Linked DNA regions of Homo sapiens. The protein of the gene in region 3 purifies or fractionates together with the protein of the main gene of each other region. This does not show direct contact. Each region holds a gene or a part of one and is shown on either strand. Other genes may lie near its edges.

What was found.
Region 1: the proteins of SERPINA1 (region 3) and DERL2 purify together in Homo sapiens (affinity purification with western blotting; 3 studies listed by BioGRID). This does not show direct contact.
Region 2: the proteins of SERPINA1 (region 3) and DERL1 purify together in Homo sapiens (affinity purification with western blotting; 4 studies listed by BioGRID). This does not show direct contact.
Region 4: the proteins of SERPINA1 (region 3) and EDEM1 purify together in Homo sapiens (affinity purification with western blotting; 2 studies listed by BioGRID). This does not show direct contact.

What each region holds. Positions count from the first base shown.
Region 1 is NC_000017.11:5,476,150-5,483,184, forward strand, and holds part of DERL2 (derlin-2), read right to left. Parts: intron 6,734-7,035; coding exon 6,660-6,733; intron 5,241-6,659; coding exon 5,147-5,240; intron 4,994-5,146; coding exon of another isoform or gene 4,952-4,993; intron 4,434-4,951; coding exon 4,238-4,433; intron 3,996-4,237; coding exon 3,905-3,995; intron 1,851-3,904; coding exon of another isoform or gene 1,808-1,850; exon of another isoform or gene 1,700-1,807; intron 1-1,699.
Region 2 is NC_000008.11:123,018,302-123,025,336, forward strand, and holds part of DERL1 (derlin-1), read right to left. Parts: intron 6,750-7,035; coding exon 6,685-6,749; intron 5,439-6,684; coding exon 5,412-5,438; intron 4,479-5,411; coding exon 4,383-4,478; intron 3,199-4,382; coding exon 3,146-3,198; intron 1,005-3,145; coding exon 894-1,004; intron 1-893. UniProt on the Homo sapiens protein: Functional component of endoplasmic reticulum-associated degradation (ERAD) for misfolded lumenal proteins. Forms homotetramers which encircle a large channel traversing the endoplasmic reticulum (ER) membrane.
Region 3 is NC_000014.9:94,378,603-94,385,602, reverse strand, and holds part of SERPINA1 (alpha-1-antitrypsin precursor), read left to right. Parts: intron 1-2,223; exon of another isoform or gene 2,224-2,361; 5' UTR 2,362-2,365; coding exon 2,366-3,011; intron 3,012-4,461; coding exon 4,462-4,732; intron 4,733-5,991; coding exon 5,992-6,139; intron 6,140-6,962; coding exon 6,963-7,000.
Region 4 is NC_000003.12:5,183,826-5,190,714, forward strand, and holds the start of EDEM1 (ER degradation-enhancing alpha-mannosidase-like protein 1), read left to right. Parts: upstream 1-3,881; 5' UTR 3,882-3,980; coding exon 3,981-4,489; intron 4,490-4,495; exon of another isoform or gene 4,496-6,889. UniProt on the Homo sapiens protein: Extracts misfolded glycoproteins, but not glycoproteins undergoing productive folding, from the calnexin cycle.

The DNA.
Region 1 (7,035 bases), on a different chromosome or scaffold from region 3:
CCAAAAGACTCCCTAAGTACTATGATGTAGTAATTCAAAACCTCACTAAAGAAGGAACCATTAAAGCAGCATCCTCAATTTGCACTTATATTTCTACTTGTAATCCTCCACAGTTGATAAAATTAGAAATGTATCTGAAAACTTCTGATTTATACTGGAGTCAGAAAATAGTATAATTCAAAATGAGTTTTTAAAATTCTTACAAATTAACAATAAAAACAAACATACCAACAGAAAAAATGGGCAAAGGGCTGAATATGCAATTCAAAAAGGAAATCCATGTGGTCAATAAACGTGAGAATGTTTGCTCTCACAATAATCAAAGGAAAGTATATTAGAAACTGAGATCCCGGCAGGTGTGGTGGCTCATGCCTGTAATCCCAGCACTTTGGGAGGCCGAGGAGGGTGGATCACCTGAGGTCAGGAGTTCAAGACCAGCCTGACCAACATGGCAAAACCCTATCTCTACTAAAAATACAAAATTAGCCGGGTGTGGTGGCGCATGCCTATGATCCCAGCTACTAGGGAGGCTGACGCAGGAGAATCGCTTGAACCCAGGAGGCGGAGGTTGCAGTGAGCCGAGATTGAGCCACTGCACTCAAGCCTGGGTGACAGAGCAAGAATCCGTTTCAAAAAACAGCAACGACAACAAAAACAAAACTGAGATCCCTTCTACTGCCCAAACATTAGCAGGATGGGGGTGGGGGCACAGCCTGGTATAGGGAGTCAAGAGCCCCATCAGACCATGCACACATGGAGGTGGCCTGACGAGATGTTAGCCCGAGTAGGATGGGGAGGCATCCCTGTAAGAGGGCAGCCTGGTCTGGGGAATCTGAGGGTGAGTGAGATAAGCAAGGCATCCATATGGGAGAGGTGGAGACTATCCCGAAAGACTGGTTACATATGAGGGGTAATTAGGTAGGTAAAACATTAATCATAATAAGAATCAGGTTAGGACAGATGGAAAGGGCAGATGGAAAGGAGTGGTACATTCATACAACCAAATAATATTCAGCAATAAAAAGGAACAAATTACCAATAAATACAAGAACACAGATGAGTCTCAAAAACATTATGTTGAATGAAAGAAGCCTTATACCAAAGAGTACATGCATACTGTACAATTCTACTCATGAAGTTGTAGAACATGAAAAACTAATCTACAGAGGAACAAAACCAGAATAGCAATTGCTTCTTGGGGGACAGGTACAATGATTGACAGGGAAGGACATCAGGGAACTTTCTGGTTGATGGTAATTTTCTGTCTTGATAGATACACAGATGTGTGCATTTATAAAAACTCAGTTGACACACTCAAGATTTGTGTATTTTGTTGCACATAAATACTAAACTCTAGTTACTGATATGCACACTCAAGTATACAAGGAATTAAGTATACATATAATGGCACATACATTTTGGATTGGAAAGCTAGATGTAGGGATAGGTGTGCAATAAGAATAGGGAACTATTAATTACAGAATCTATGTGGTGGCTACATGAAGCTCACTCCAATTTTTTTCTGATTTCCTATAAGTTTGTTAATTTTCATAATAAAATATTGGAGGAAACCAATAGGAAAAAAGCTAGAATGAACCATGAGGTAGTACTAGAAATGGGAGTATAGTATAAACCCATGTTTTAAAAAATACATAGATCTAAAAATATACACATGTATACATTATCATACATACATACATATAATTCCATTGCTCTGTTCACTGAGAGGATCTGGGAATAGCAACACTCCAATAGCAATGAGCACATCTAGCACCCAGATCTTGGCTTCTAAATACCATTCTCCACTTTAAAGGAACCAGGGCTCCTTGAAGAAACAGCTGATTCTAGGACTGGATCAAGGAGAGCACAGGATGAGCCTGGTATATCTTGTTGTGCCAGAAAACAATTGCAAAAAAATAAAAAAATAAAAAGTGGGGTGTAGTGGCTCACACCTGTAATCTCAGTGCTTTGGGAGGCCAAGAGACAAGAGGATCACCTGAGGACTGGAGTTCGAGACTAGCCTGGGCAACATAGAGAGACCTTGTCTCCACAAAAAAAAACATTTAAGAAAGAAAATAAGCAGAGCTTGGTGGTGTGCACCTGTAGTCCCAGCTACTCAGGAGGCTGAGGTGGGAGGATCACTTGAGCCCAGGGGCTTGAGTTAACAGTGTGCTATGATCATACCACTGCACTCCAGCCTGGGCAATGGAGTGAGACCTGTACTGCATATGTAATTTCTTGTAGGACTGAAATTGTTTCAAAACATTTTTTAAAAATCATAAACAATGAGACATCATCCTACAACTATTCAACTAGGAAAGGGTAAATAAAATGCCTTCCTTGTTTGATTAGGATGTGGGGAAATGAACAGTTATAAATGCTAGTTGAAATGTAAACCTGAACATCCATTCTGGAAGGCGTTTGGCAACAAAATAGGAATTCTACTTCTAGGAATTATCTTTTGAAAATAATCATGGATGTGTGCAGAGATTTAGCTACAAGGACATTCACCACTCCAATTACAGAAGAGAAAACCAAGCACTAACGTCAATGTCCATCAACAAGGGATTAGTATAATTACACCATATCCATACCATGGAATATCACCTGTTATAATTTTATAACACTTCAGGGTGGAAAAAACAATTATGGCATACTAAGTTTACAAGGTTACAAAAATTGTTTTTTGAGACAGGGTGCCACTCTGTCCCCCAGCCCGAAGTGCAGTGGTGCGATCTCGGCTCACTGCAGTCTCAACCCTCTGGGCTCAAGCAATCCTTCCACCTCAACCTCTCGAGTAGCTGGGATTACAAGTACATGCCACCATATGCAGCTGATTTTGGGATTTTTTGTAGAGATGGGGTTTTGCCATGTTGCCCAGGCTGGTGTCAAACTCCTGAGTTCAAGTGATCCGTCTGCCTTCACCTCTCAAAGTGCTGGGATTACAGGAATGTGTTATGTTGTCCAGGCTGGAATGCAGTGGCTATGTTAAAGGCCTAGCCCAAGAAGAGCAGTGGCTGTTCACAGGCGCAATCATAGTGTATGCAGCCTTGCCTGGCTCAGCGTTTTTTAAAAAGTACACAAAGACTGAAGAATACACATTGAAAAGTTAACAATGGTGGCCACTGCTATACCCAAGTGTCGGGATAGTGGACAATTTCACTTTCTTCTTTTTTGCTTACTATTCTACAACAAACATTTTATAACAAAAACTCACATTTTACTTCTCAATTGAGCCCTTTTTAATATGGCATCTCCCAAGGATACCAAATTCCAGAGTAGAAAGAGGTCTCATAAATCAAAGTTCTACTGCACTCCAGCCTAGGTAACAGAGTGAGACTCCATGTAAAAAAAAAAAAAAAAAAAAAAAAAAAAAAGAAAGAAAGAAATCAAAGTTCTATCTCAGGAAACTGAAGTGCAAAAAAGAAAGGACTTGCTCTATGGCTGGTCAGTGGGACAGCTACACCTGGTTTCCAGTCCAAAGCTATTTCCACTCTGCTTCACTGCTTATCTCAACCACCTGCTTGGCAGGCCACAAAGTCCACCATCAGAAACTTTCATCAGTTTTGCCCATTTTGCTACCTTACTTCACTAAACGTGGACAGCAGCTTTCATAAAACCAGCAGGCTCCTACCAGAATAGAAGTTCTAGTGGTCATCTCTAACAATTACCAGGTTACTCCCAAGATATCTTGAGCCTGTTGACGTTGGTCTTGCCACAACCCTGGCACTGTCTGCTCCTACCCAGTCCAAGTGCTCTTCAACTGTAGCCAGAATGCTCAATCTGCAAATGGTTACTGACCTGAGCTATGTGTACTAGGAGCTAGGGGAGCCAAAGAAAACACAGATCATGCCCCTGTCCTGGTTTGCCTGTAAGAGTATGTAACCTGGTGTTAAATACTCACAAAATAGATGGTGTTTTCAGAATTCTTATTCCACCAGGTTGATTGGGAAATACATCTTCCAAGAAAAAATATATGTGTCCAACTGCAATACCTAGAGTCAAGCAGAAATAAAGGATGAGGGAGAGAATTAAAATTTAGATTGCAGGTAGACCTACCAACACAAATTGCCTATATTTAGGATGAATGTCAACATAATTATTAAAAATTAATGAACTAATATTGTGGTATTTTACAATAGGTAATACGTGAAGGCCAAACAGAATAAACATGAAAAATAGTAACAAAATACTTTTACAGGTAAAATAATTTAAAAAATAGTGAGAAGAGCCTTACCCAAAAGGTCCACAATGATTGAGTTCCCCAACAACAAGGAAAATCCCATGAGCACCCAGGGCAGAAAGGGGGCCTGGAAGTTGAGAAGGCCGAAGAAGTTCATGCGGACATAGGGGTTCCTTCGGCTCCACACATAGACGAGCATTATTGTAAAGGCCTGGCCCAAGAAAACTAAGCTCACAAACAGACCAAAAAGCTAGCAGATGGCATTAAGGAAAATATCAACATTAAAAGTTTAATAGGAAAGACTGAGCAGGAGAACTAAAGATTGTGTTCTAACAGAAGTTTGAATTGGAAAAGTCAAGTTGTTACATCTTTAGAATAGAAGGAGAAACACCCAGAAAATAATTACCCAGAGCAATCAGGCAAAAATCTGCTTAGGCTAAATTATCGAGATTTACAGCTACTTCAAACAAATACTCTGCTTTCGTGAAGTTCTTGCCTCTTTGGAAAATGTGTTAATTCTTCAGTCAATAATTATATTAAAGCTTGCTCACGATTAGCACCTTTACAGAGATGAATAAAGCTAGCTGGAACAAAACCATCTTGTCAGACCGTACCATATCTAAGTCTATTGTATAGATGAAAATTCTTTTTCTGAAAAAATAATTTATTGGTTTTGGTAGCCACCAAGTAAATGTCTTACCAACTTAGTTTAAAAGTGAAGTACGCCAAGCAGTAATGATATAACTGAGTTGCTTAACAGTAACCCACCTGGGTTAAAAGTTCCTTTGACTTGCTCATCCTGTCCGACTGCTAGGTTTGGAAACTTGTCACAGAAAATGTGCTGTAAAATAAATGATAGTGCCCTGAAGCTAAGATCTAGAGAACTGTGGGAGACAGATGACAAGCTTTAGGAAGAGCCAGGGTGTTCTTCAACATTTTCCCGTGTTGTTTGTTGAAGGATACGGTCATTAAGAATCCACCAAAAAGGAACATAAATACAAAGTCTGCTGTCCGACCTCGGAAAGAGCCTTCTTCTAGCATTCGACAGTAACGATATCTTAAGTTCCAAGTTAAGAAAATATTAAGCACACGAATATGAACAAAGTAAAAATTTAATGTTATCTTGTAAGTACACTTGGATTCCATATTATTTGTAATTAGTCAAGTCTTCATTTGTATAAGAATGTTTGAGTGGTAATGTGATTACTTTTTTACCAAGCATTTGAGAAAAGGTCAAGACCAGCATCATTTTTTACAAACTGTCCCTGGCTGGGAACTAATCCAGATGACACACAGACATGCTTTCAGTCCCCTATTCTTTTTTTTTTTTCTTTTGAGACAGAGTCTCGCTCTGTCACCTAGGATGGAGTGCAATGGTGCCATATCGGCTCACTGCAAGCTCCGCCTCTCAGATTCAAGCGATTCTCCTGCCTCATTCTCCTGAGTAGCTGGGATTACAGTTGTGTGCCACCATGCCAGGCTATTTTTTGTATTTTTAGTAGAGAGCAGGTTTCACCATGTTGGCCAGGCTGGTCTCAAACTCCTGACCTCGTGATCCACTGCCTTGGCCTCCCCAAGTGCTGGGATTACAGGTGTGAGCCACCACACCCGGCCCTCCAGTCCCCTATTAAACCTTTAAAAATTTGTATTGTCTTTCCTGTGCTCAGCCACACCTTAATATGCACCATCTTTGCTTTCCCACATCCTAACTTGGAAGAAATCCGCAGCAAGAAGCCTTGTGTGCTCAACTACTTTTCCAGCCTGGCAGGTTGAGCACCTCAGTCAATAAAGATGAATTACGATGAGAAAAAACTTTAATGGAAACTTATCAGAATGATATCCTACATAGGATATAAAATGGATTCCTGCCATCCTCAGGAAGGAATGCAGCTGCAGATGAGTTGAACTGTAACTCCCTCTTAATACAGAGGGCAGGGGTGGAAGAGGAATGCCCTGCTCTGTGGCCCCAATTACCATTGGATCAGAGCTGGGGTTTTCCTTTCAACAAACCGGAACTTGACAAGCCCAGCAGACACAACCACTGTCTTTCAGCCAGTAGTTCCAGCAACCAGGACCCAAGGAGATCTCAGGTTCCCACTCCTCATGAACCCATTCCAAAACTTATGCCCAAATTCTGCTGAATTACCATTGCATTCAGGTTGTTTTACGGCTTCGAACCTGTTGGTTACTGTGGAGGTATGCCTCAGTTAAATCAATTCTCCCCTCCCTTGATCAGATTTGTAAGTAACAAAAGAGCAGAAGTGCTATCTTTTTATGGTTAAAACCTCCCATTTGAACAAAGTGACCTACAGACATTTTCAAAACATTACTACCTAAGCAACTACTTTATGTACCACTGACCCAGAAATCATAGCTAAGATGGTACCAAAAACAAGTAACAGGATGAAAAGTTTCAACTTAATTTTTTACTTCCTAAGAAAAAGTTTTGATGCTGACCCCATTTAATAAAGGATACAGAAAAATCATGTTAAATAAAAAATTGAATCCAACTGGCCCAAAAAATAAGAAGTTGGTGATTAATCTCCATATCTGTTAAAAAAAAATCAAGAGAAAGATGTATTAAGTAAAATAAATTACCAGGAAACAGTTCCATATTAATACAAAAGAAACATCCTATGACTGCGGTGGTTGAGAAGCCTTGGACAGAGTGATACTCTGTTCTGAAACAAAAACGGGGGCATATAATCTGATGTTAGATTTTTTTTGCTGCTTTTAGTTCAAAGTCTGAAAGACATCATTGGGACTGTGACATTTATAATAATAGGAAAGAAAATTTTAAATTGTGATCGTCGTATGGAGAAAGTTTGCTGGAAAGACTAGGTTAATCGGCA
Region 2 (7,035 bases), on a different chromosome or scaffold from region 3:
TTTTGCCTCACTGACAGAACGGTCACACGACTATTACATGCTTCTGGGTGTGTGCGCGTCTCCTCTCAGATCGTCAAAATCCTGCTCTCCTACCCCCACCTTTAGGAATATGGCAGCTAGCTTTACTTACCGAGAACCCGCTACTGTGCTTCCCAACAGTGTATCTTACCTCATGCAGTCCTGTGAGACAGGGGCTTCTCCCACAATTTACAGGCTTGCAAACTGAAGCTTGGAGGTTTGATTAAGTAACTTTCCCAGTATAAAAACTGCTATCTGAGGGGACTGGGATTCAAATCCAAGTTTGTCTCAAAAATCAAAGCTGTTGCCCTTACCAGCCCACTTCAGTAAACCCTAAAAGCAGATAAAGAGCACAAACTCCCAGGGGGTTGGGCCTATACAAACCTCAAGTCTCTCATTTTAACTCTGAACAGTCCTGTAAAATGTCTACTCCATAGTATTTAATATAAAAATGTTTAAAATTGCTGACCAACACGCTAACTTACCCTTCCTTGGGCAAAATCATGGGTAAAAACTGATGGGCCAAGAAAAGACACCCCACTAACCTGTGACTCTGCCCATTCACCAGCCTACTGTTTCGCACTCTGGAGTTGCATCAGGTCCCTCAGCAGGCTCAGAGAGCTGAGATGCCTCCTGTAATGTTGGAATCTAGTTGTCAGTGGTCCCTGGCTAAAAGAGTAACAGGAAGGCAACTGAGCCTAAGCTTTAATCCCTAACTTCCTGTGACTGTGTGACTAGGGTAAGTCACTTGTTGCCTCAGGTTTCTCCAGCAGATGGGGCATAGGGGTAAATCATACTCCTCATGGAGCTCTCATTAGGATGCACTAAGAACACAGGCAGTAAAATGTTAGATGAGACAGGACAAAAACACTTACAAAAACTGAGGTGTGGATAGAAAATTTCTTCCTCCCAAGTCCATTGGGTATCTGAACATTAGGAAAAAATAAAGATGTCCAACCAGATTTCCAATAAGCTCATTGATTACCCTGCAAAGAGAGCCAAATGAGTTTAAAGACATTCAAGCAATAGAGATGCACCAAGTTTTAACTAATAGCATAAGGAAGAGAGCCTTCAAGGCAGCCCATTTAGTCCCTGGGAGTCTGTGAGAGCTGACAATGAGCACTTTTGTAGTCTGAGTGGCAAATGCATTCTGAGGGAGACGGGAAATCAGTCCTGCTGAACCAATGAGGCCTGCCACTCTTCAAGGCCAGCAGCCCCTCTGACCTCTCTTTCAAGCACCAGCCCATCCTCAAAATATTGTTTTTGCTACTTCCTGCCTCAAGAGTTGGGGAAGTTGCAAAGCATGCTTCTGAATGCTTTCAGTCATGAATATTGTATTTATAAAATGTGGGCAAACATGAAGGCTACCAAGAGAGAAGCGTGGGAGTAAGGAAAAGAGGAACAATAAATGCCTGTTCCCCCTTTCCTGGAGCCATTAAGCACTTCTCCCTTGCCTCTTGTATCCTTGAGTGTAAGACACCACAGAGATCACTTAGGAAAGCCGACTTGCACCCTGAAATCAACGCTGACCTTCTTCAGTTTTCCCTTGGCTTACATACAGGTCACCTCAAGAGTGTATAGATCTACTGTTACTATTACAAATCCTCTTTGTCTTCACCTGCAACATGATTCCCGTCAGGGGCAAATCAACACCTGCAACTACTTCAGACTTCACCTTCCTGGGTGGAAGAGCAGCTTTGCCAAGTTCAGAACATGCTTTGCTCTAAACAGTCTGCTCCATCCATTCACTTCTCCCCAGCAATATGCAGAAGAAGTTAGGATCACACAGAGCAAATATGTCAGACACATGAAGAACCAGCAATATAAAAATGGATTGAAATATTAAAAGTAGTTTGTAGTATAAGAAATGGGAGTTCTGGCTGGGTGCAGTGGCTCATGCCTGCAATCCCAGCACTTTGGGAGGCCAAGGTGAGCGGATCATTTGAGGTCAGAAGTTTGAGACCAGCCTGGGCAACACAGCGAAACCTCATCTCTACAAAAAATACAAAAATTAGCTGGGTGTGGTGGTGCACACCTGTAATCCCATCTACTCGGGAAGCTGAGGCATGAGAATTGCTTGAACCTGGGAAGCAGAGGTTGCAGTGAGCCAAGATCACGCCACTGCACTCCAACCTCGGTGACAGAGCCAGACCCCATCTTGAAAAAATAAATAAGTAAATAAATAAACAGAAAAAATGAAGAAATGGGAGTTCTTAGAGAAGTTGCATCTTGGTATCCTCCCTTTAAAATTCTGACTGGATAAATTAAAGCTATTCCTATGTCTAGCTCTAATTCCTGACCAATAGACTAGATATTTGACCCTGGTTGGCCAAAAGTTCTGTATTATCATCCAGGCATGGTGGCTCATGCCTGAAATCCCAGCACTTTAGGAGGCCAAGGCAGGCAGATCATTTGAGGTCAGGAGTTTGAGACCAGCCTGGCAAACATGGCAAAACCCCATCTCTACTAAAAATCCCAAAAAAAAAAAAAAAAAAAAATAGCCGGGCATGGAGGCGGGCGCCTGTAATCCCAGCTACTCGGGAGGCTGAGGTAGGAGAATTGCTTGAACCCATGAGGCAGAGGTTACAATGAGCCAAGATCGCACCATTGCACTCCAGCCTGGGCAACAAAAGTGAAACTTCGTCTCAAAAAAAAAAAAAAAAAAGTTCTGTATCATCAAACCACTTGCAAAATTATATCCTATCTAAGAATCTGGATTTCTATGACCGATAGGCAGTTTCCAAGGCATTCTGGAAATGCCTTAAGAATATAAGACATAGTAATTTTATACATAGCTCTTAGAGGAGCCAACTCAGACAAAAATTAGGTCTCTGTTTGCCCAATCAGAATAGTGAATCCAGAAATACATATTTATTCCTGTACTATACACATAGGAACATACTGTGTGTAACAATAAGTTAACAAAATCACAACCATTCAAGGTTAAATATGCTTAAAGCCCTGCAATCTAATCAATTCAATCGAAGTGAAATTATTCCATAAATATAGGGTTCTAATGCGTCAATGTTGAGATTCTTTAAAGTTGTATAAAGGTTAGAGAAAGATAAAAACTAATGGAAATTTTCCAAGGATTAGTTTCCAATTAAATAAATCTAATATCACTTACGAGCCTCCGATGATATAGTTGAATCCAAGGATAACCCAGGGTAAATAGCAGGCCTAGGATGGAATGAATATATGCAAATGTGAGTAGCCACACCTGACGAGGACACAGCTACTACGGGGACTAAAGTGGGTAAGGATACACTGACAAGGGCTTTATATAAATCCTCTGGAAGGTCACTGCAAAATTTCTAGGATCAATCTAGCATTATTCCCACTATACTTAAACCTTCCTATCTAAAACTAGACTTAATTGTGTATTTGTAACTGGAAGGACACAGTACTTTGCCCACAGGTCTGATGCAATACAGGCCCTGCTGAACTGCTATAAACAGACAGCTTCAAAAAGCAGATGAGTGTCCTACAGATGCTACTAAAAGCAAGGCCCATGAGAGAATCACACTAAGATTCCAGCCAACAAATTGCTACAAATAAAATAAACATACCCCATCTTTTTAGGTTCTTCTTTTACATATCTTGCAAAATTCCTCTGAATTTTTATCTCATTATGCATTGATATCTTAAACTAATACTCTCCCAAATAAGAAAGCTCTCCAGATGAACTCAACATTTGAGCCCCTTACCAAATCCAAGACATCATACCAAGAGCTAAAGGAGTTGCAAGAAACTTCACAAACTAGGAAAGAGAGGGTTATACTCAAATAACTTTACAGCTACATGTGCTAAGTACTAAAGAGAAACACAAAGTATTGAAAAAGCCCAAACGTAAGACTAATTCTAGGCAGGAGATTCAGGAAATATGTTCAGTTCCAACTCAAATTAAGAATGGGTAGGATTTATACAAAGAAGAGAATCAAGATGTTACAGGTGGAAAATTGTGAAAGAATGTACAAAGAGAAGTGTTTGGGGGCAAAAACAATCTGTTTCAGCTACAGTATAAAGCAAATAACAGGGAACGAGGGAGGGATAAGAACAGATTTTTAAAGCAGGGTTTCACATGAGTTATCTCTCCTTCTCTCTAACACAGACACATAAGATCACTCAGGGACATAACCTTGAGGGGCCCGAGGTACAGAGGGAGTGAAGAAACAAAGGCCAGCAACGGACTCCAGGCTGGCTAATTAAATAGAGCTGGGATTGAGGAGGGCAGAAAGGGGCTTGCCTATGGTACACTGCTCTGCAGTGACCCCTTCTGGATGAGTCAGAAAGTACATCTCTGGACTGAAGAGGGATTTCTGCAGACAAATGAAAAGGACACTTTTCCAACCAAGGCAAAGTACCTTAAATCGTGTTCCAAACCAAAATGATACAATCATGTCTCTGTTCAGCTGGGCCCAGACATAAAGTACTGACATGATCAGAGGAATCATCAGCAACTGCAAAAGAAGTCGACATGTAAAAACCAGGCTCCAGAGGCACTTAAAAAAGGTGTACATCTACTATGCTTTTTACCCCTCCTCTTCACAACAATCCTCACCTGGGTAAAGGGAAACTCAACTGATCAGAATTATAAATTGATCCTATTATTTATCATACAATAAATATTACAAAATCCTATAATAAAATACAACAAAACTATATTATTTTAGATGGATTCAGAAATGTAAGAGTCAAGCTCTGTTATTTACAAAAAGTAAGCAACAAAGCATTACCATATAATCTCAATTTTTAAAAAACATCCATATACATGCCTAGAAAATACTAGACAACCACTGTTGTCACATGCCTAGAAAATACTAGACAACCATTATTGTCAATGTTCAAACACCAAAAAGAGGCCAGAAATGAGCAAGGAAAGCAATGATTTAGATAGCTCATGTAAGATCTTCAAAGATTTAGCTGACTTAAGATCCTCAAAATAAAACAGCTATAGGCCAGGCACGGTGGCTCATGCCTGTAATCCCAGCACTTTGGGAGGCCGAGGCAGGCGGATCATGAGGTCAGGAGTTCAAGACCAGCCTGGTGACATGGTGAAACCCCATCTCTACTAAAAATACAAAAATTAGCCGGGTGTGGTGGCGTGCATCTATAATCCCAGCTACACGGGAAGCTGAGGCAGGAAAATCACTTGAACCCGGGAGGCGGAGGTTGCAGTGAGCCAAGATCAAGCCACTGCACTCCAGCCTGAGCAACACAGCAAGACTCCATCTCATAAATAAATAAATAAATAAAACAGCTGTAATTCCATAATTTCAAAATACCACATAATTAACCCCATAGTTAATGCAATTTCAACTTCTGACAAAGGCCACTAATAGTATATTTGAAACAAATAAAAGGGCAAATAGATAGTTTAAATGGACACTTACCTGCATATCCATTGCTAAGCCAGTAATCTTGGTTTGTAAAGTTAAAGATCAGACATAAAAAAGCATTCTGTACCTAGTCAAGACTGATGTGGTTATTTTCCTCCCATTTAAAAGTTCACTTGGCCAGGTGTAATTTGGCTCATGCTTGTAATCTCTGTACTTTGGAAGGCCAAGATGGGAGGACTGCTTGAGGCCAGGAGCTCCAGACCAGCCTGGGCAACATAGCAAGACCCCATCTCTAATTTATATACATATTTTTTTAATTAAAAAAATTTTTAAGTTAATTCCAGTGTTCTGAAGGAAAATACTTTTCTATAGTTCAGATTGCTTAAAACATTCTACAACACAAAGGTATCTAATCTTCATTATGCATATTCCATTAGACGATACCATGACAAGGACATAGTAGAAATCAACAGCTTCCGCATATGACTTAGTCTGGTCATCTGGCATCCTTTTTCTCTGCTATTGCATTTTAACATCTCTCCTTCAAATAAAGGATGAAGATGCCTGTAGCCTTTGAAGGAAATAATCATTCTACTTACATTCTCAGGACTCTATAGCATGGTTAAAGTCCAAAATATTTTTTCCTTCCCTCAAAGGAGGGGGGAAAGGGCATCCACAGTGCCACATTTTCTGGCCCTCAGCCAAGTTTAAATGGCAGCTGAGCCCAAAGGCAATTTTGAGCTCACCAATTTTGCACAGGACCTGAGACATCGAGAGCTGCTGCTGCTCTCACCATCTGTAAGAGTCCTGCAGTTGGAGGGCTGCTGACAACTGCTATTGATACAAAGCAGAGAAACGTACTGTGTCCCTTCCCAGAGCTGGGTACTTCACAGAGGGACTGAATTACTATGTAGGACCCCAAGAGAAGGACAGCAATGAAGTCAGAAAAGGATGCTGGTTGTAAATTAATTTTCTGATAAGGACCACAGATTTCAAAAGCTGTCTCATGGCACGGACTCTCTTTGTGCCTCAGTCAACAAGCTGTCACACATGAGAACACAGAGAACTGGGAACAAGAAGAGGGAACAGTCATAAAACTACTCAACCAAAGGTGGAAAAAAATCCCACAAATGGTAAGAGAATGCATCACTCAAGGGCTATATGATTTACTACAGTTTTTTTTAAAAAACTATAATTATTCTTATTAACGGTAGTCAACCAAGATGCAAATATTGTAATTTGAAACGTTTACAGAATATGGTCTATTTCCCCAAACCTGGAAAAAAACTGGTTTATTTCTGGCCCAAAATCACAGACTGAAGGATACCACGATGCAAATCCAGTTAAAGAGGAGCATGAATAAATAGTCTGCTGGCCTCCCATCAAAAGCTCCTGGAAACAAAAACAAGCCAAATGTCATGGTTCAGAATTTCACAACAAAGTAACATCTACATAGAGAAACACTTCAAAAAGTTACAGAAAAAGCCAAAATGAGAACATTTTAAAAACCACTCCTCTCTAAAAAAGTGAATTTTTAAAAATATCTAAACAACGTCCCCAATAAAGCCCTGAATCAAAGTTACCTGAGTAAGGTTAATCTATGCTCTCCTAACTGAATTCCAGTAAGTGACATGCTCTGACTACCACAGGCTAAAACAGACCCAGAGAAAGTACAGTC
Region 3 (7,000 bases):
GTAACCCCAGCACTTTGGGAGGCCAAGGCAGGCGGATCAAGAGGTCAGGAGTTCAAGACCTGCCTGGCCAACACGGTGAAACCTCAGCTCTACTAAAAATACAAAAATTAGCCAGGCGTGGTGGCACACGCCTGTAATCCCAGCTATTTGGGAAGCTGAGACAGAAGAATTTCTTGAACCCGGGAGGTGGAGGTTTCAGTGAGCCGAGATCACGCCACTGCACTCCACCCTGGCAGATAAAGCGAGACTCTGTCTCAAAAAAAACCCAAAAACCTATGTTAGTGTACAGAGGGCCCCAGTGAAGTCTTCTCCCAGCCCCACTTTGCACAACTGGGGAGAGTGAGGCCCCAGGACCAGAGGATTCTTGCTAAAGGCCAAGTGGATAGTGATGGCCCTGCCAGGGCTAGAAGCCACAACCTCTGGCCCTGAGGCCACTCAGCATATTTAGTGTCCCCACCCTGCAGAGGCCCAACTCCCTCCTGACCACTGAGCCCTGTAATGATGGGGGAATTTCCATAAGCCATGAAGGACTGCACAAAGTTCAGTTGGGAAGTGAAAGAGAAATTAAAGGGAGATGGAAATATACAGCACTAATTTTAGCACCGTCTTTAGTTCTAACAACACTAGCTAGCTGAAGAAAAATACAAACATGTATTATGTAATGTGTGGTCTGTTCCATTTGGATTACTTAGAGGCACGAGGGCCAGGAGAAAGGTGGTGGAGAGAAACCAGCTTTGCACTTCATTTGTTGCTTTATTGGAAGGAAACTTTTAAAAGTCCAAGGGGGTTGAAGAATCTCAATATTTGTTATTTCCAGCTTTTTTTCTCCAGTTTTTCATTTCCCAAATTCAAGGACACCTTTTTCTTTGTATTTTGTTAAGATGATGGTTTTGGTTTTGTGACTAGTAGTTAACAATGTGGCTGCCGGGCATATTCTCCTCAGCTAGGACCTCAGTTTTCCCATCTGTGAAGACGGCAGGTTCTACCTAGGGGGCTGCAGGCTGGTGGTCCGAAGCCTGGGCATATCTGGAGTAGAAGGATCACTGTGGGGCAGGGCAGGTTCTGTGTTGCTGTGGATGACGTTGACTTTGACCATTGCTCGGCAGAGCCTGCTCTCGCTGGTTCAGCCACAGGCCCCACCACTCCCTATTGTCTCAGCCCCGGGTATGAAACATGTATTCCTCACTGGCCTATCACCTGAAGCCTTTGAATTTGCAACACCTGCCAACCCCTCCCTCAAAAGAGTTGCCCTCTCAGATCCTTTTGATGTAAGGTTTGGTGTTGAGACTTATTTCACTAAATTCTCATACATAAACATCACTTTATGTATGAGGCAAAATGAGGACCAGGGAGATGAATGACTTGTCCTGGCTCATACACCTGGAAAGTGACAGAGTCAGATTAGATCCCAGGTCTATCTGAAGTTAAAAGAGGTGTCTTTTCACTTCCCACCTCCTCCATCTACTTTAAAGCAGCACAAACCCCTGCTTTCAAGGAGAGATGAGCGTCTCTAAAGCCCCTGACAGCAAGAGCCCAGAACTGGGACACCATTAGTGACCCAGACGGCAGGTAAGCTGACTGCAGGAGCATCAGCCTATTCTTGTGTCTGGGACCACAGAGCATTGTGGGGACAGCCCCGTCTCTTGGGAAAAAAACCCTAAGGGCTGAGGATCCTTGTGAGTGTTGGGTGGGAACAGCTCCCAGGAGGTTTAATCACAGCCCCTCCATGCTCTCTAGCTGTTGCCATTGTGCAAGATGCATTTCCCTTCTGTGCAGCAGTTTCCCTGGCCACTAAATAGTGGGATTAGATAGAAGCCCTCCAAGGGCTTCCAGCTTGACATGATTCTTGATTCTGATCTGGCCCGATTCCTGGATAATCGTGGGCAGGCCCATTCCTCTTCTTGTGCCTCATTTTCTTCTTTTGTAAAACAATGGCTGTACCATTTGCATCTTAGGGTCATTGCAGATGTAAGTGTTGCTGTCCAGAGCCTGGGTGCAGGACCTAGATGTAGGATTCTGGTTCTGCTACTTCCTCAGTGACATTGAATAGCTGACCTAATCTCTCTGGCTTTGGTTTCTTCATCTGTAAAAGAAGGATATTAGCATTAGCACCTCACGGGATTGTTACAAGAAAGCAATGAATTAACACATGTGAGCACGGAGAACAGTGCTTGGCATATGGTAAGCACTACGTACATTTTGCTATTCTTCTGATTCTTTCAGTGTTACTGATGTCGGCAAGTACTTGGCACAGGCTGGTTTAATAATCCCTAGGCACTTCCACGTGGTGTCAATCCCTGATCACTGGGAGTCATCATGTGCCTTGACTCGGGGCCTGGCCCCCCCATCTCTGTCTTGCAGGACAATGCCGTCTTCTGTCTCGTGGGGCATCCTCCTGCTGGCAGGCCTGTGCTGCCTGGTCCCTGTCTCCCTGGCTGAGGATCCCCAGGGAGATGCTGCCCAGAAGACAGATACATCCCACCATGATCAGGATCACCCAACCTTCAACAAGATCACCCCCAACCTGGCTGAGTTCGCCTTCAGCCTATACCGCCAGCTGGCACACCAGTCCAACAGCACCAATATCTTCTTCTCCCCAGTGAGCATCGCTACAGCCTTTGCAATGCTCTCCCTGGGGACCAAGGCTGACACTCACGATGAAATCCTGGAGGGCCTGAATTTCAACCTCACGGAGATTCCGGAGGCTCAGATCCATGAAGGCTTCCAGGAACTCCTCCGTACCCTCAACCAGCCAGACAGCCAGCTCCAGCTGACCACCGGCAATGGCCTGTTCCTCAGCGAGGGCCTGAAGCTAGTGGATAAGTTTTTGGAGGATGTTAAAAAGTTGTACCACTCAGAAGCCTTCACTGTCAACTTCGGGGACACCGAAGAGGCCAAGAAACAGATCAACGATTACGTGGAGAAGGGTACTCAAGGGAAAATTGTGGATTTGGTCAAGGAGCTTGACAGAGACACAGTTTTTGCTCTGGTGAATTACATCTTCTTTAAAGGTAAGGTTGCTCAACCAGCCTGAGCTGTTCCCATAGAAACAAGCAAAAATATTCTCAAACCATCAGTTCTTGAACTCTCCTTGGCAATGCATTATGGGCCATAGCAATGCTTTTCAGCGTGGATTCTTCAGTTTTCTACACACAAACACTAAAATGTTTTCCATCATTGAGTAATTTGAGGAAATAATAGATTAAACTGTCAAAACTACTGACAGCTCTGCAGAACTTTTCAGAGCCTTTAATGTCCTTGTGTATACTGTATATGTAGAATATATAATGCTTAGAACTATAGAACAAATTGTAATACACTGCATAAAGGGATAGTTTCATGGAACATACTTTACACGACTCTAGTGTCCCAGAATCAGTATCAGTTTTGCAATCTGAAAGACCTGGGTTCAAATCCTGCCTCTAACACAATTAGCTTTTGACAAAAACAATGCATTCTACCTCTTTGAGGTGCTAATTTCTCATCTTAGCATGGACAAAATACCATTCTTGCTGTCAGGTTTTTTTAGGATTAAACAAATGACAAAGACTGTGGGGATGGTGTGTGGCATACAGCAGGTGATGGACTCTTCTGTATCTCAGGCTGCCTTCCTGCCCCTGAGGGGTTAAAATGCCAGGGTCCTGGGGGCCCCAGGGCATTCTAAGCCAGCTCCCACTGTCCCAGGAAAACAGCATAGGGGAGGGGAGGTGGGAGGCAAGGCCAGGGGCTGCTTCCTCCACTCTGAGGCTCCCTTGCTCTTGAGGCAAAGGAGGGCAGTGGAGAGCAGCCAGGCTGCAGTCAGCACAGCTAAAGTCCTGGCTCTGCTGTGGCCTTAGTGGGGGCCCAGGTCCCTCTCCAGCCCCAGTCTCCTCCTTCTGTCCAATGAGAAAGCTGGGATCAGGGGTCCCTGAGGCCCCTGTCCACTCTGCATGCCTCGATGGTGAAGCTCTGTTGGTATGGCAGAGGGGAGGCTGCTCAGGCATCTGCATTTCCCCTGCCAATCTAGAGGATGAGGAAAGCTCTCAGGAATAGTAAGCAGAATGTTTGCCCTGGATGAATAACTGAGCTGCCAATTAACAAGGGGCAGGGAGCCTTAGACAGAAGGTACCAAATATGCCTGATGCTCCAACATTTTATTTGTAATATCCAAGACACCCTCAAATAAACATATGATTCCAATAAAAATGCACAGCCACGATGGCATCTCTTAGCCTGACATCGCCACGATGTAGAAATTCTGCATCTTCCTCTAGTTTTGAATTATCCCCACACAATCTTTTTCGGCAGCTTGGATGGTCAGTTTCAGCACCTTTTACAGATGATGAAGCTGAGCCTCGAGGGATGTGTGTCGTCAAGGGGGCTCAGGGCTTCTCAGGGAGGGGACTCATGGTTTCTTTATTCTGCTACACTCTTCCAAACCTTCACTCACCCCTGGTGATGCCCACCTTCCCCTCTCTCCAGGCAAATGGGAGAGACCCTTTGAAGTCAAGGACACCGAGGAAGAGGACTTCCACGTGGACCAGGTGACCACCGTGAAGGTGCCTATGATGAAGCGTTTAGGCATGTTTAACATCCAGCACTGTAAGAAGCTGTCCAGCTGGGTGCTGCTGATGAAATACCTGGGCAATGCCACCGCCATCTTCTTCCTGCCTGATGAGGGGAAACTACAGCACCTGGAAAATGAACTCACCCACGATATCATCACCAAGTTCCTGGAAAATGAAGACAGAAGGTGATTCCCCAACCTGAGGGTGACCAAGAAGCTGCCCACACCTCTTAGCCATGTTGGGACTGAGGCCCATCAGGACTGGCCAGAGGGCTGAGGAGGGTGAACCCCACATCCCTGGGTCACTGCTACTCTGTATAAACTTGGCTTCCAGAATGAGGCCACCACTGAGTTCAGGCAGCGCCATCCATGCTCCATGAGGAGGACAGTACCCAGGGGTGAGGAGGTAAAGGTCTCGTCCCTGGGGACTTCCCACTCCAGTGTGGACACTGTCCCTTCCCAATATCCAGTGCCCAGGGCAGGGACAGCAGCACCACCACACGTTCTGGCAGAACCAAAAAGGAACAGATGGGCTTCCTGGCAAAGGCAGCAGTGGAGTGTGGAGTTCAAGGGTAGAATGTCCCTGGGGGGACGGGGGAAGAGCCTGTGTGGCAAGGCCCAGAAAAGCAAGGTTCGGAATTGGAACAGCCAGGCCATGTTCGCAGAAGGCTTGCGTTTCTCTGTCACTTTATCGGTGCTGTTAGATTGGGTGTCCTGTAGTAAGTGATACTTAAACATGAGCCACACATTAGTGTATGTGTGTGCATTCGTGATTATGCCCATGCCCTGCTGATCTAGTTCGTTTTGTACACTGTAAAACCAAGATGAAAATACAAAAGGTGTCGGGTTCATAATAGGAATCGAGGCTGGAATTTCTCTGTTCCATGCCAGCACCTCCTGAGGTCTCTGCTCCAGGGGTTGAGAAAGAACAAAGAGGCTGAGAGGGTAACGGATCAGAGAGCCCAGAGCCAAGCTGCCCGCTCACACCAGACCCTGCTCAGGGTGGCATTGTCTCCCCATGGAAAACCAGAGAGGAGCACTCAGCCTGGTGTGGTCACTCTTCTCTTATCCACTAAACGGTTGTCACTGGGCACTGCCACCAGCCCCGTGTTTCTCTGGGTGTAGGGCCCTGGGGATGTTACAGGCTGGGGGCCAGGTGACCCAACACTACAGGGCAAGATGAGACAGGCTTCCAGGACACCTAGAATATCAGAGGAGGTGGCATTTCAAGCTTTTGTGATTCATTCGATGTTAACATTCTTTGACTCAATGTAGAAGAGCTAAAAGTAGAACAAACCAAAGCCGAGTTCCCATCTTAGTGTGGGTGGAGGACACAGGAGTAAGTGGCAGAAATAATCAGAAAAGAAAACACTTGCACTGTGGTGGGTCCCAGAAGAACAAGAGGAATGCTGTGCCATGCCTTGAATTTCTTTTCTGCACGACAGGTCTGCCAGCTTACATTTACCCAAACTGTCCATTACTGGAACCTATGATCTGAAGAGCGTCCTGGGTCAACTGGGCATCACTAAGGTCTTCAGCAATGGGGCTGACCTCTCCGGGGTCACAGAGGAGGCACCCCTGAAGCTCTCCAAGGTGAGATCACCCTGACGACCTTGTTGCACCCTGGTATCTGTAGGGAAGAATGTGTGGGGGCTGCAGCTCTGTCCTGAGGCTGAGGAAGGGGCCGAGGGAAACAAATGAAGACCCAGGCTGAGCTCCTGAAGATGCCCGTGATTCACTGACACGGGACGTGGTCAAACAGCAAAGCCAGGCAGGGGACTGCTGTGCAGCTGGCACTTTCGGGGCCTCCCTTGAGGTTGTGTCACTGACCCTGAATTTCAACTTTGCCCAAGACCTTCTAGACATTGGGCCTTGATTTATCCATACTGACACAGAAAGGTTTGGGCTAAGTTGTTTCAAAGGAATTTCTGACTCCTTCGATCTGTGAGATTTGGTGTCTGAATTAATGAATGATTTCAGCTAAAGATGACACTTATTTTGGAAAACTAAAGGCGACCAATGAACAACTGCAGTTCCATGAATGGCTGCATTATCTTGGGGTCTGGGCACTGTGAAGGTCACTGCCAGGGTCCGTGTCCTCAAGGAGCTTCAAGCCGTGTACTAGAAAGGAGAGAGCCCTGGAGGCAGACGTGGAGTGACGATGCTCTTCCCTGTTCTGAGTTGTGGGTGCACCTGAGCAGGGGGAGAGGCGCTTGTCAGGAAGATGGACAGAGGGGAGCCAGCCCCATCAGCCAAAGCCTTGAGGAGGAGCAAGGCCTATGTGACAGGGAGGGAGAGGATGTGCAGGGCCAGGGCCGTCCAGGGGGAGTGAGCGCTTCCTGGGAGGTGTCCACGTGAGCCTTGCTCGAGGCCTGGGATCAGCCTTACAACGTGTCTCTGCTTCTCTCCCCTCCAGGCCGTGCATAAGGCTGTGCTGACCATCGACGAGAAAGG
Region 4 (6,889 bases), on a different chromosome or scaffold from region 3:
TGCAACGTCCGCCTCCTGGGTTCAAGCAATTCTCCTACCTCAGCCTCCCAAGTAGCTGGGACTACGGGCATGTGCCACTATGCCAAGCTGATTTTTGTAGTTTTAGTGCAGATGGGGTTTCACCATGTTGGCCAGGCTAGTCTTGAACTCTGACCTCAAGTGATCCACCCGCCTCAGCCTCCCAAAGTGCTGGGATTACCGGCGTGAGCCACCGCGCCTGGCGACTTGTGCTAACGTTAAACCAAAATTATGGGGGGTCATTGTTTGTGGACTGAGTTTCTGCACTAGGTCCTAGCAGACCAAAGTAGTTACATATATTAAGTGCCACACAGTTACATGGAAACTTTACAGACCAGTTTTTCCTGAAAACAGAAAATCCCAGTCTGTCTGAATCAGAATAATAAGGAAGTCCCTTCTTCTTTAACCCTTAAAAAAAAAGTAACCCGATGTTAACCAATCAGTTATTTTTCATTGTTTTGTTTCCTTGCTCTCATCTTACAAAACCCACTATTCTGCTGTTTCTCATTGGGAGCTTTCATTCTGTTTTGTAGAATGGAGGCTGCCCCATTCATAAGTTATGAATAAACGCCAGTTAGATCTGTAAGTAAATTTGTTGTAATTTTTTTCTGACACTAGGAATTGCCAAATGACCCTTCACACGGGAAGTACTAGTTTTTGTTTTTACCAGTCCCAGTCCCCTATGCCTTTTTAAAAAAGAGATGAAGTCTCACTGTTACCCAGGTAATTGCATTGGCTATTTACAGCCACGATCATAGGAAACGCAGCTTCAAACTACTGGCTCAGGGGATCTTCCTGCCTCAGCCTCTCGAGTATCCTGTATCTTGCTAACAGAGCATGTTGACAAACTTGGATTTGTGCCCATCAAATAAGTTTGAACTGTAATTATATACTTTTTTTTAGGCCTTCAGCTTTGCAAAACCTCTGCTTTTGAAATACTTTTTTTTTTTTGAGACGCAGTCTCACTCTCTTGCCCAGAATGGAGTGTGGTGGCGCTATCTCAGCTCACTGCAACCTCTGCCTCCTGGATTCAAGTGATTCTCGTGCCTCAGCCTCCTGAGTATCTGGGATTACAGACGCCCACCACCACGCCCGGGTAGTTGTATTTTTAGTAGAGATGGGGTTTCATCATTTTGGCCAGGTTGGTCTTGAACTCCGGACCTTAAGTGATCTGCCTGCCTTGGCCTCCCAAAGTTCTGGGATTACAGGTGTGAGCCACCACGCCCAGCCGGGTGCTAGTTTTAAAAGTTTCAGAGTTGAAAAGTATTAATAGGTCTCACTATGTAGCACGGTTGTAAGTACTTTATATATATATATGATGTAATCACAACTGTGATAAACATTGTCCTCATCACTCACCCATTTTATGGATGAGGAAACAAGTCCTAGAAAAGTAACTTCCCAAGGTCACTCTTAGGGCAGAGCTACGATTTGAACACCTGACTTCTGAATGTGAGTTCTTAGTTGTCATCTCTTTGCATTCCCCAGAGTAAAGCCATTTTTACACTGAAAAAGTGCCTCCTTTCCTTTTTTATCAGTCCCTGATGCGCTTGTGAGATTACCGGAAAACCTGTCACAAATCAAACTGTTTATCTTAAAGAGTTGATTTTCAAGACTGGAGTTTTCTGATTGGGTATGGGTGTTGTCCCAATCTTATCAGTACATTTAGCTTAAGGAGAGTCCTAATCGAAAGGACTAGCACAAAATAACCCATTTCTTTCATTTCAGTTTCATTCCAGAAGGAAACACTTTCTGAACCTAGACCCTAATGCCTAGGCTATGCCTTGCAGGGCACTAATGTCAAAACTATTGCTTTTGGGTGGCTTGGAAAGAGCAGAGGGACCTGTCTGCTCAAGGGCCAGCTATTTGAAGTGCAAATTGCCCTAAAGTGTAGTAACTCCCTTTCTGCCTAGAGCCAACAGGCTCTGAGAATTGAGCCCCCAACCTGATTTCTTCCATTATGGCTTGTGGAATAAGCTTTACAGTTTTCTATGAAGATTAAATAAGCACACATGTCAAAGTGTTTTGAAAACCATCAGTTTTACTATGAAAAGCATCTTTCAGGAGTTGGATGGTTTTCTCTGGTTATTAAAAGATTTATTTTTATAAGAGTTTTTCTCTAACATCAAGACAGAAGCTGTCCTCAATGTGGCCTGCAGTTAACCAGGTCAAATTTAAGTTAAAATTTGCAATAAAGTAGCCCCGGAAGGAAACATGCAACATGCAACTGAATATTCACATTCAGTTTGCAAGTTCCAGGAAGGCAGAAGTTCAGGATCAAGGGCTGGAGCTGGGCTGCCAGCACAGTCCCTAGGCATCCTTCACAGAGGGGAAAAAGCAGAAGCTGTGTAGTCTAAAGACCCTGGCTCAAGCTGTCTTCGTAATCTTTTTGCTGCTTGGGCTGCTCTCGATGTCTCAATGTTGGGAAAGAACAAGGCTCAGCCAACAGTAAGGACCTTCCTATGTGCCAGCTACCATGTGCTGTAATCAAGTGTTTTCTTAGTTCCCCTTACACCTCCTCTGTATTTCAGAAAGTCCTCTACCCTGAAAATGTGATGAGAGTGCCACATGACAACTTACCTTCTTATGCACTCCATTGGTCGGCCATTCAGCCAATATCAGATTTGGGGGTCTAGTCAGGTCTTGCTTCCCAAGCTTTTCAGAAACCCTGATGAAACAGGCATAGGGTCTAAACTTAGGGAGGGCAAAACTTACAGCCAACTCCAAATGCAGCAAGCAAAATAAATAAGCGCCTAAACCATTGAATCTTTATGTGAAAGCCATAGCCCTTTAGAGCTAACATTTGCAATCTTCTTAATTATAGGAAGTAGATACAGAGGGGTAAAGTTATTTAACTGGGAATCTACCCCACACCTCAAAGGTTAGGTCACTAATTGCGGGTGCACAGGAGAGATGGTAGGATGGGAGGGACAGGAGAAGACATGTTTAGATATATCTGGTAAATAATTTGGTGGTGGTGGGAGCCTTCATTCCCACCCCCAACCCGCCCCCCCCTTTTAAAAAAATCCTATTTCCGAGACAAAAGCAATATAACATAACTTTGTATTTCCTGAAACTTCCAGTTTCTAAGAACTGTCCAAGAGTACTTACACGCACATTCCCGAGACCGTTGGAGTTGTTCGATAGGTCTAGGGAGGGATCTGGGGATACGTGTTTTACAAGCACCATGAGCGATTCTTCAAAGTTGGGTGTTTGAATCAAAAGAGCAGAATTCATGATACCGTTTTGTGCACTCCTTGAGCTAAAAGGTAGTATCCCACCCTCTCCATAAACAGACACCTAAGTTATAAAACTTATGCGCTCGATATGCAAAAATAGCTCGTTTTATACAGAAACGATCCTTTCCTTCTTTTCCTTATATATCTTTTAACTGTCATCACTCCTAACCTAGACCTAGAGTGGCTTTTTCCGGTCCTAGCTCTGCCGGACACACGCTCTGCCCAGAGACCCGATCCACCCAAGGCCAGGCGGTCTGGGGTCACGTCTGTGTCCAGCGTCCGGCGGGCGCTGCCGTGCCGCTCTCCCATTGGCTGGAAGTTCCCTCGCGGGCCGGCGCGGCTCCTGCTCGCCACGCCAGCCCATCGGGCTACGGACCGCCCAGGGGGGCGGGGCTTGGGAGTTGGGGCGGGGCCCGGGTGAGGGGCGGGGCCTCGGGGCGTCGCGGACGTCCTGGCGGCCTACTGCGTGGGAGGGAGTCCTGGGCCGCGCCCCGCGAGGCCGGGCCCAGGCCGGGCCAATCCCGGGCCACTGGGCGGGCGACCGTGGGGCCTGGCCGGCCCGCCGGAGAGCCTGGGGGTTGGGGACGATGGGCTAGTTCCTGGTGCGTCACGGGGGAGTTCCTTAAAGGGGAAGCGAGCCGGGCTACGGGGCGAGCGCGGGGTGCGGTGGTCGGCGGGGAGGCCCCCGCGCTTTAAAATAATGCCCGCGGCGCCCGCGCGACCATGCAATGGCGAGCGCTCGTCCTGGGGCTGGTGCTCCTCCGGCTTGGCCTCCATGGAGTATTGTGGCTCGTCTTCGGGCTGGGGCCCAGCATGGGCTTCTACCAGCGCTTTCCGCTCAGCTTCGGCTTCCAGCGTCTGAGGAGCCCCGACGGCCCCGCGTCGCCCACCTCGGGGCCCGTGGGCCGGCCTGGGGGGGTATCCGGGCCGTCGTGGCTGCAGCCGCCGGGGACCGGGGCAGCGCAGAGCCCGCGCAAGGCTCCGCGGCGTCCTGGGCCGGGGATGTGCGGCCCAGCCAACTGGGGCTACGTGCTGGGCGGCCGGGGCCGCGGCCCGGACGAGTACGAGAAGCGCTACAGCGGCGCCTTCCCTCCGCAGCTGCGTGCCCAGATGCGCGACCTGGCACGGGGCATGTTCGTCTTTGGCTACGACAACTACATGGCTCACGCCTTCCCCCAGGACGAGCTCAACCCCATCCACTGCCGCGGCCGTGGGCCCGACCGCGGGGACCCGTGAGTAGCCCCCGCCGCCCGGGGCCGCGCGCCCACGCGCTTCCTTCCGCCCTCCGCGCCGGGGTGCAGCCCTCTGTCCTCCGGGGCCCCCGAGGGCGCCAGGGCCGTTAGGGTCCCGGGCAGCGCTCCCGCGCCCTGTCCCGTGTGAGTCCCTGTGAAGACCCCCGAGCTTGAGGGTGCGGGGTGGGCCGGTGGCCTTCCTCTCCTGATTCTCCCGGAATCTCCAAACTTCAGAACTGCTGTCCAGCTCAGTGTCTTACGCGTGAGGATACTGAGGTCCAGGACCAGAAGGGACAGTGGCAGTGCCAAGGGCTGGCTTGGAGGGCTTTCCACTTCCATCCGACCCCTTCCTCCGGATGAGCATAAACTCTAAATGAAATCTCCATCATGCCCCCCGTGTAAACGCAGCCTCAGAACAAGCCTTTACCTCGCACCCCCACCTCTATCACATTGCCACACCCACGTCTTTTCTATGTAAAAAGCCTATAGTTGACTTCTCCAAAGCCGTCCATTGAGTTTGAGGCAGAACGGGGTTACAGCCTCTCCTTCACAGGGGCTGCTTCTTAGGCTGAGGATAGTTAGGTGGTGGGGAGGGAAGCTATGTGGCCCACTTTTGGGGTCCAGATACTTGAGGTGAAATTCACTGGATGCCAGATTGACTGTCAACGTCATCGCCCTGTACGATCTGTCTATAAATCCCCCGCCTCTGGTGGCGTGGTTGTCCGGGAAGGTCAGGCAGTCTTCCCTGTTCACCAGCCTTGTTTGCAAAGGCTGAGCTCCAAGGGTCACCACTGTTGACATCAAAGTCCAAGAGGGCAGTACACCCAGCTAAGGACCTCTTACCTGTAGGGAAGGAATGTGCATTGCCATAGACCCTGTTAGTCCAAATAGTTGACTCCCCTCCCCTGGATGGGAGTGGAGGAGTTGGTTTGCTCAGTGTCTTGGCACCGTCTGGGGCAAGCATTTTCCTTCACCTGGAGGAAAGCAGTGGAGTCCAGTCCTTAGGTTCTGATAAGGAAGCCTATAGACTAAACGGAGTTGGGTTTTTAAAATGGTGTGGTTATTTACACATTTATGTTTTAAATTGCAGTTTGAGAGCATGATTTCTACCGAAGCAAGGGGACATCCCAAGCTAAATTCAAAGGACTGAGCCTTTTCAAAATTCTAGGAAACCGATGAGTTTTTCTTGCTTAACCATAGCGTTTATACGTATAAGTGTATTTTCTATCTCAATTTTTTTGAGAAAAAATATTAAATTTTGAAAAAAAAGTATTTGGCCTTTCCAGATTTTTTGTTTGTTTTTTGAGACGGAGTCTCGCTTTGTCGCCCAGGCTGGAGTGCAGTGGCGCGATCTCCGCTCACTGCAACCTCCGCCTCTGTGGTTAAAGTGATTCTCCTGCCTCAGCCTCCCGAGTAGCTGGGACTACAGACTCGTGCCACCACGCCCGGCTAATTTTTTGTATTTTTAGTAGAGACGGGGTTTCACCGTATTAGCCAGGATGGTCTCATCTCCTGACCTCGTGATCCACCCGCCTGGGCCTCCCAAAGTGCTGGGATTACAGGCGTGAGCCACCGCTCCCGGCCATGGTCTTTCCAGATTTTAAGAAATGAATGAATTATTTGGCTCACTTAACTAGAGGGGACTTTATACCTATAAATGTATTTTCTTTCTTAGTTTTTTTTTTGGGGGGGGGGATAAACTTCATTTAATTGTGGTCTTTTTTTTGTTGTCAGCCTACATCATGCTTTGATGTTTTTTCTTTTTAAATCAACATCATTAAAGTTTGAAAAATATCATAAAATCCCACCAGCTATTTTAAATTTATTTTTGCCACTAGTTCCTACCCATATGTCTATGCATGTTTTACATAGTTGCAATCATAGTATGTGTACATATTTTGGATCTTAATTTGTGCTTTTCCACTAGTGCTCTTGGTATTACAAGAAGGGAGAGAGCACTTCCAATAAGTGCCTTTATTCCTGCTCACAGACTGTTTCTCAGATTACCTTTTATCAGGTGGACTGAAGTTGAAAACAGTTTAACGGGGAATTGTGATAACACTTTCATTTGAGAATATGACGGTTTGGAGAGTGAGTTGATGACATTTTAATGTTTTTCTTAATGAACCTTAAAAGCGCTTCTGGAGAACCTTAAGAATCCCTTCCCAGCAAAGTGAGGTGGTGGTTGATTTAACTTGCTGGTCTTTGTGGTATCATGTGTGCTGTTGGCCTTTATTTCAGGATGAAGGCTGCCGATGAGTGTTTTGGTTTGGTTATGCATTGGTTTGGTTATGCGTAAGTTAAGGTCAGGTTGCTTTGAGACAGATGTGTTATTGGAAAGAGGGTTTTAGAAGTATTGAGGAGGTGGGGATGGCATTAGGGAAGGGTTGTGCCCTGAGC